Homo sapiens: one gene and its partner. The protein of the gene in region 2 interacts with the protein of the main gene of each other region in a biochemical or structural test. Each region holds a gene or a part of one and is shown on either strand. Other genes may lie near its edges.

Region 1 (3,500 bases), on a different chromosome or scaffold from region 2:
ATGTCAGCAAGCTGGGGAAGGGGGCGGAGAGACAGGCAAGCTGTTAACCCGCGAGATGCTGGGGTGTGGGCGGTGCGGGCCCAGGCTCCCAGACAGCTATTTTGGCATGTGCTGAGATGGGCTCATCCCTGGCAGGGGAGAGGCCTCTACGTGGGAGCTCTGAACTGATGCTCTGCCAGGAGCAAGGGGAGGAGGTCTCAGTGTAGATGAGGAGGATGCTGGGGCCCTCCCTCTCCTCTCAGACCTCTCACCATGAGGCACTGGGTACGAGTGAAGCGATCTTCCCTGCCCCAGACCAGCCACCGACCCCTGGGTGGTATGGGGGCTCCTCTGAGCATGTCCATTGGGCTTTAGACTCCCTGCGCCCTTAAAGCAAGGAAAAAGATCAGACTTGTCCTCCACGCCAGACCCAGCCCGGACGCCACATGATGACGGGCTCACAGCCCCAGTCTCTTTACCAAGGGTCTCTCCCAGTCCAGCCTGCTCCCCTGACTTGAGGGATCTTGGTGGCCATTCTCCCTTGGGGGTCCAGGTCAGATTATCTCATGGGTCTCACACCGTTGGCACCGGAGGCAAAGACCTTTCACTAAACCCCATGGAGCACTCAAACCTCTTCTTAGGTCTTCCCAGTTTAGGGATGGCAAATAATAGAAGAAAAGAGTACTCCTAAGTAGAGTGGCCCAATGTCATGAGAAGATCATTGGGCTGGGCTCCAGTGTGAGCTGGGGGATCCTGGCCAGGCCCCTGACCTTTCTGAGCCTTGGTTTTCTTATCTGCAAAATGGGAATCAAACCAACTACAAAGATGTTATGAAGATCACATGAAACTGATGAATTTACAAGCTTCTGGCAGCTGTTAATCACCAAAGACAGAGGAGCTGGAACGCCACTCCTGTCTCTTCAGCCTCTCCCTCCCCTCCGCGGCCACAGAGCCCTTGGTCTCACTCGAACCTGCTTTCCCGACCTAACCACGTCTCTGGTGTTTCAGCGAGGCAGGGGGTGAAGAGGAAAGATGGCAGAATGATAGCTCTTCCAGGGCATTTGGTTAGTTTTGGCCTACCCTCCACACCTGTGACCCAAGTGCCAGCCAAGTCCTGTGCTGAAACCCACACTGCAGGCTGGATGTGGGGCTGACCCCGACACGGAACAGAGGAGAGCCAAGAAGAGCAAGGAATGAGTGCCTGGCACCGCTCAGGGGTGGCCCAGGAACTCGGGGAGCGGAAGAACCTGGCCGCAGGTGTGGCAGATCCCGCTTCCTGCACACACTGCCCCCGCAGCTGACTTAGAGGGCTGTTCAAGGAGGAGGCAGAGGGGGCAGGGAGGAGAGGTGGTCAGCCTGTCCTGGGTCCTGTGATGAGGCCTTAATGAACATGGCCCTGGAAGCCCAGCGCGGGAGTCCCAGATGACCCCGGCTAGCTGCGAGAACTTGGCTGAGTCAAGGCCACCTGGCTGGGCCTGGGCCTCAGGGGACGGGAGGGGTGGGGCCAGGAGGCTAGAGGCACCCACCCAGCCTGCCCTGGGCCGCACTGATTGGCTCCGCCCGGCAGCTAGAGCTGCAGGTAACTTCCAGCGAGTGCCTGTGGGTCCCCGTGGGCCTGTGGACTGGCGGAAGGAGAAGCTCCTCGCCCACCGGCCTCCCACAACGGCAGCTGTCGCCCCCTTGTGTCGCTCCAGAGGCACTGCAGGGCAGCCTCCAGGGGCTGCTTCCACACCTCCCAATTCTCTCCTGCCTTAAAGTGGGTGGAAGGGCTCCGGATCCCTGCTTCTCCGAGGGGCCCGCGCGGCCTAAGACTCAGGGCTAACCTATGACTCCACTTTCACCTCTGCCCCGGGGGGGCCACTGGCGAATTCTGGAGAGGCCTCCAGGGAGCCGAGGAGGGCAGGCCCGTTTCTCTCACTCTCCCCCAGCCCAGCTGCCTGGAGCCTCAGCTTTCTCTCACCAGGGGTCACTTAGTCCTTCCTCTGTCCTTGCCTGAGGGGACACCAACTCTCAAGCTCCTGTGCCAACCGAGAATCCTGGGCAGCTCCACATCCCAGGATCTGACCTTTTTGGAGTATGGCATGGAGACAAAATGACAAGAATTGTCATTCCCTCCCCTGACAGCGTTTGGCACAGAGGGAGACTGTGAGAATTCTACACTGGGTTCCCAGCAGGGGCCAGCTGTATACTCTGGCACCTGACCTTGTGTGGGGAGCAAACACAGTGAGATGAACGCAGCTCGGCCACTGAGGCCCATTTTTCTTTCCCAAACTTGCTGGAACCCAAGGATTCTAGGTTGTCCCTGCCTCTCACAGCAACCTGGGCTGCTCCCAGCATTAGCCCAGGTGAGACAAACCACTCAAAGAGGTTTCCTTTCGCTCCCAGACACCCTGGCACCATAGACAGGGTTCTCACCTCTGCAAAAGAGGCGTCCCTCAACACGTCCCTCCCTATTCATTGCAGAACCAACTCAAACAGGGGCTGCTTCTGCTCAGGCACCCGCTGGGCACCCTCTGCAGCCCTGACTTCAGGGCCATGCTCGCTGGGGCCGTGTGGCAGTGCCTCTAAATGGGACCCATTGTCTCACACTGGTTCTGCAGGTGTGCCTCCTGCCCTCTGGGAGCTTGTGACTTTGAGCACCGTGAAGGGCAGGGGATGGCGGCACAGACGCTCAGGCTCCTAGGGGCTCTGAGGCCAAGGCTCCTTATGTCTACATGTGTGAGGTGCCAGGTAATTTCTGATGCCCCTGGGGTGTAAAACCAGCTAATCCAGAAGCCCTGTGACCTGCCAGGATCAGGCTGCTGAGACCAGGCCAGAGGATAAGCGGGTCCTCCTTCCCGGTGGGTCCTGGAGGAGGAGAGAGAGTCCACTTCTCTCCCACTCCTGGCTGCCCAATCCTTAGGGTCAACAGAAGCTTAAATGGAAAGGTCCTGCCTGCCCTCTGCTCAGGGTAGAGGAAAACTAAATACCCTGGGATCAGAGTAGGGGCCTGTACCTCCTCTCCTCCTCCTCCTCCTCAGGGAGGAGACTGATAGTTCCGGCAAGAAGTAAGGTGGGATGCAGTTGGGGTGGGAGGAATCCACAAGCTGGGGAGAATCATGGCTCACTGAGCTAAAAAAAAAAAAAAAGGGAGATGGCAAGCTGCCACCCCCCGATTCTGAGAGGATGACGCCAGTTGTGTGGGGCAGAGATGGACTTTAAGGAAAAGCCTCTTTCAGCCCCACAGGGGCTGCCATTCAGAGACTGTCCTACCCAGAGGGGCCAGGATGGCAAACATGTGGCCCATGTGCCATCAAGACCCCCTGCCAAGCCCACAGCAGACACTGCTAATTGTTCATGGAACTCTCCCCATGAGCCAGGGCCCGCATGCAGAATTCTCCACCTGGCTTCAGCAGCCACTGCCAACCTAGTTGTTACCCTTGATCTTCCCGTCGGGCCCCTCAACCCCAAGGCTGGATGTGTGTATGTGGGTGGGGTGGGGAGGGGGCGGGATGGGGGACATGGGGTGGATGACTGGGGAG
Region 2 (3,500 bases):
GCCCGGCCTGGAACTTCTTTTTTATCCCTTTCTTTTCAATCTCTGTGTCATTCTGTTTGTGCATGTGATATTGATATAATCATCTTCATTTGTCACACAGTCTGAAGGGTAAAACGTATCACGTGGATCAGCTATGGAACAGATACCCCAAACCGAGGGCTGTCTGACTCCAAGTTGGAGCTCCAGTGTCCTGTGGGATGACTTAACTGACATTTGTTATGTTTGACAAGGATATTACTTTAAATATTTTTAAAAACTAGTTGCTGTGAGCTGGGCATGGTGGCTCACGCCTGTAATCCCAACTCTTTGGGAGGCCAAGGTGGGTGGATCACCTGAGGTCAGGAGTTCGAGACCAGCCTGGCCAACATGGAGAAACCCTGTCTCTACTAAAACTACAAAAATTAGCTGGGCATGATAGCGAGCGCCTGTAATCCCAGCTACTCAGGAGGCTGAGGCAGGAGAATCGCGTGAACCCAGGAGGCAGAGGCTGCAGTGAGCTGAGATCGCGCCACTGTACTCCAGCCTGGGCGAGGCGACAGAGCGAGACTGCCTCAAAAAAAAAAAAAAAAAAAGAAAAAGAAAAAAACAACAAAAAAAAACCTAGCTGCTGTGGGGTACTAGCTGCTAGTACTTCGTCTTTTTTTTTTTTTTTTTTTTTTAAGAAAAGCCCTCTATTCTTGGAAAAGAAAAACTTTGTCTAGCTAAAAACCTGCGTTTCCCAGCCTCTTTTGCACACAGGTGTGGCCACTAAGTGCAAGTAGTTGGACCGGGCTTCTGAGAAAGCTCTTTAACGCATTTATGCCGGAGGCTGCAATTTTTTGAATTTTTCCACAAGTAAAAATTCAGACCCTGGCAATGTCCTTGAGCAGTAGGCTATAACTCCCACATGCTTAGCGTTCCAATAATGAAACACTAGGCATAAGGGCATAAGGGGGTTGACTTGACAAGAGGTCTGCCTTTTTGTCCTTACCCTTTCCTCTTTTTCTCTGCCTGGAAACACAGATGTGACGCCTGGCACTCCAGCAGCCATCTTGGTGTGGAGCAGTGGGGGATCATGCCATGCACTAAGGCTGACCATACTGATGCTTAAGACTGACCATACCAGCCCTGGGCTGCTGAACTCTGGATTTCTTCACAGGAGAGTCCCTTCTATGTTGTTTAAGCCTGTTACTAGCAGTTACAAGCAATTCTCAATTTTTTTTTTTTTTTTTTTTTGAGACAGAGTCTCACTCTGTCACCCAGGCTGGAGTGCAGTGGCATGATCTCAGCCCACCGCAACATCTGCCTCCTGGGTTCAAGCGATTCTCCTACCTCAGCCTCCCAAGTAGCTGGGATTACAGCCACATGTCACCATGCCTGGCTAATTTTTTTGTATTTTTAGTAGAGATGCGGTTTCACCATGTTGGCCAAGCTGGTCTTGAACTCCTGACCTCAAGTGATCCGCCTGCCTCAGCCTCCCAAAGTGCTGGGATTACAGGCGTGAGCCACTGCGCCGGGCAGTTCCAAGACTTTTGTATTCGCTGCTCTGTTCTGGGAACAGTGTCTGCAATTTGCACATGGTGACTTCAGCTTGGTACTCAAACTGCACCTGCCTCGGAGGCCCCCTCTGACCATCCCCCACTGGGATCTGCCCCCACCCTCCGACACTCCATTTCCTTCTTCCCTGCTGTACTCTTTTCCACTGCATTTAGCAGCCTACAATCCCTTGTGTATTTTTCGTATTTATCCTGTTCTATGTTTGTGTTACCCATGAAAACATTATAAGTACTAGGAAGACAGAACATTTGTTTTAAGCTGGTTGATACTACATCCCCAGGCTCTAGAGAGTGCCTGGCACTGAGCTGTCCCCAAGTCCATATGTGCTGAGTAAATGCAGAGCTGTGTCCTGTAGCTCAAGGTTTATGGAGTGCTGCTGTGTCAGACACAGGGCTGAGGCCCGGGTGGCTCTGCTCACCGGATCCTCACAGCCCTCCAGAAGGGAGGTCTCTGTTCCCGCCACATCCTCAGTGCCAGAGCAGGGCCTGGCACAGAGTGAATGAATGAGTAGTGGGGGTCTCGGAGGCAAGCCTCGGCCCACCCAACCTTCCCACCCACACGCCATCCGTCACCTTTGCCCACGAAGTAATCCTGGTAGTAGCGGGCGCCCAGGTCCACATGCTCGATGCTGTACTGCCGGGGCCGACTCTGCGTCCGCTGCTGCTCCTTGGGAACTTCCAACACCGAGATGCTGGCGTTGGTGCGGTAGGCGCTCAGGGCGGGCTCTGCCAGGTGGCCCTCGCCGCTGCTCGGGGAGCCCACGGAAGCCCGGGAGAAGCTCACGTTGCGCTCACACTCGCCCCCGATCTCATTGCGGAAGTGCGGGCAGCTGAGCAGCAGGTCGTTGCTGTTGTCATCGCCGAGGTCCTGCTCCAAGTTCTCCTTGCAGTTTAGGTCCTCTGTGCTGGTGAAGGCCGGGTCCAGGCCTCCGAGGCTGTGGGCCCGCGAGGCCGTGAGGGAGGCCATGGCCGAGGCGGCGGAAGCGGCCGAAGCACCCGTGGTGGTGTTCCGCCGCTGCGACACCGACACCCTGTTGGCGGCCGCCTCGTTGAGGTCGAACAGCATGCTCTGCACGTCGAAGTGGGCGAAGCTCTTCTGACACACCCACGGCCTGCTGGCTTCCGGGGGGCTCCGGCCCTCGTCGGCCTCCCCCGGGGAACGCCCAGCCTCCCCCTCGGGTTTGCTGCTCCTTAGCTTCCGAAAGATGGACGAGTCCACCGTGTCCCCGCCGCCGAGGCCCCGCGCAGGTTTCTTCCGGGCCTTCTCCTTCTCCTTCGTGGGCTGCAGTGGCAGGAGGCTGTCCTTGGCGGGCTGCCCGTTGTGGGAGTCCCCCTTGGCTCCGCCGCCGCCCCCCATGAGGTGTGGGCCAGGATCTGCCCGGAGGAGCTCGGTGAGGGCCTGGCACCCTCGGGCGTCGGGCTGCTCGCTGCGGAACTCGTTCAGGATGTCGAAGAAGCTCTGCTCGGGCATGCCCTGCACGTCGATGGACGAGGTGCTCCCGTACTCGCGGAAGAGGGGCAGCGCCCCCGTGTGCCGGGCCCCCCGCGGCTCCCCCGCGTCCTCCGCGTCACACTCGCTGAGGGTGATCTCGCTGCTGCTGCGGTGCCGAAGGGGGAGGAAGGCCCTGCCGGGGGACCGGGGCCACCCGTCCTGGAACTCCACGTCTTTGGACCTTCTCCTGGAGAGTCGGTGGAAGGCTTTGGACCCTGAGGAAGCCGGGGTGCTGGTGGGGGGCTGTCCGTTCTGTATGCTCCTCATGGAATGGGCCATCTTGGTGGCCTTTGTGCCATCTGTGTCCTGGGAGGGGCTTGGGTTGCTGTGCTCTCTCAGGGCCTCCCGCTTGGGCGGCCAGTCGGCCACCCTTGCGCGCACGCCCATCTTGGGCATTGCGGGAGTGGTGGGGCTGGGGCGGGTGGTGGCGGTGGCGGTGGCGGTGGCGGTGGCCGGGCTCTCGCCAAGAGGCT

The links. Proteins that work in one complex are often made in the same cells at the same time.
Region 1: the proteins of SIPA1L3 (region 2) and DGKZ interact in a test that uses a peptide from one of them, tested with the Homo sapiens proteins (one large-scale study listed by IntAct).

The regions. Positions count from the first base shown.
Region 1 is NC_000011.10:46,350,463-46,353,962, reverse strand, and holds part of DGKZ (diacylglycerol kinase zeta), read right to left. Parts: intron 1-3,500. UniProt on the Homo sapiens protein: Diacylglycerol kinase that converts diacylglycerol/DAG into phosphatidic acid/phosphatidate/PA and regulates the respective levels of these two bioactive lipids.
Region 2 is NC_000019.10:38,081,708-38,085,207, reverse strand, and holds part of SIPA1L3 (signal-induced proliferation-associated 1-like protein 3), read right to left. Parts: coding exon 2,109-3,500; intron 1-2,108. UniProt on the Homo sapiens protein: Plays a critical role in epithelial cell morphogenesis, polarity, adhesion and cytoskeletal organization in the lens.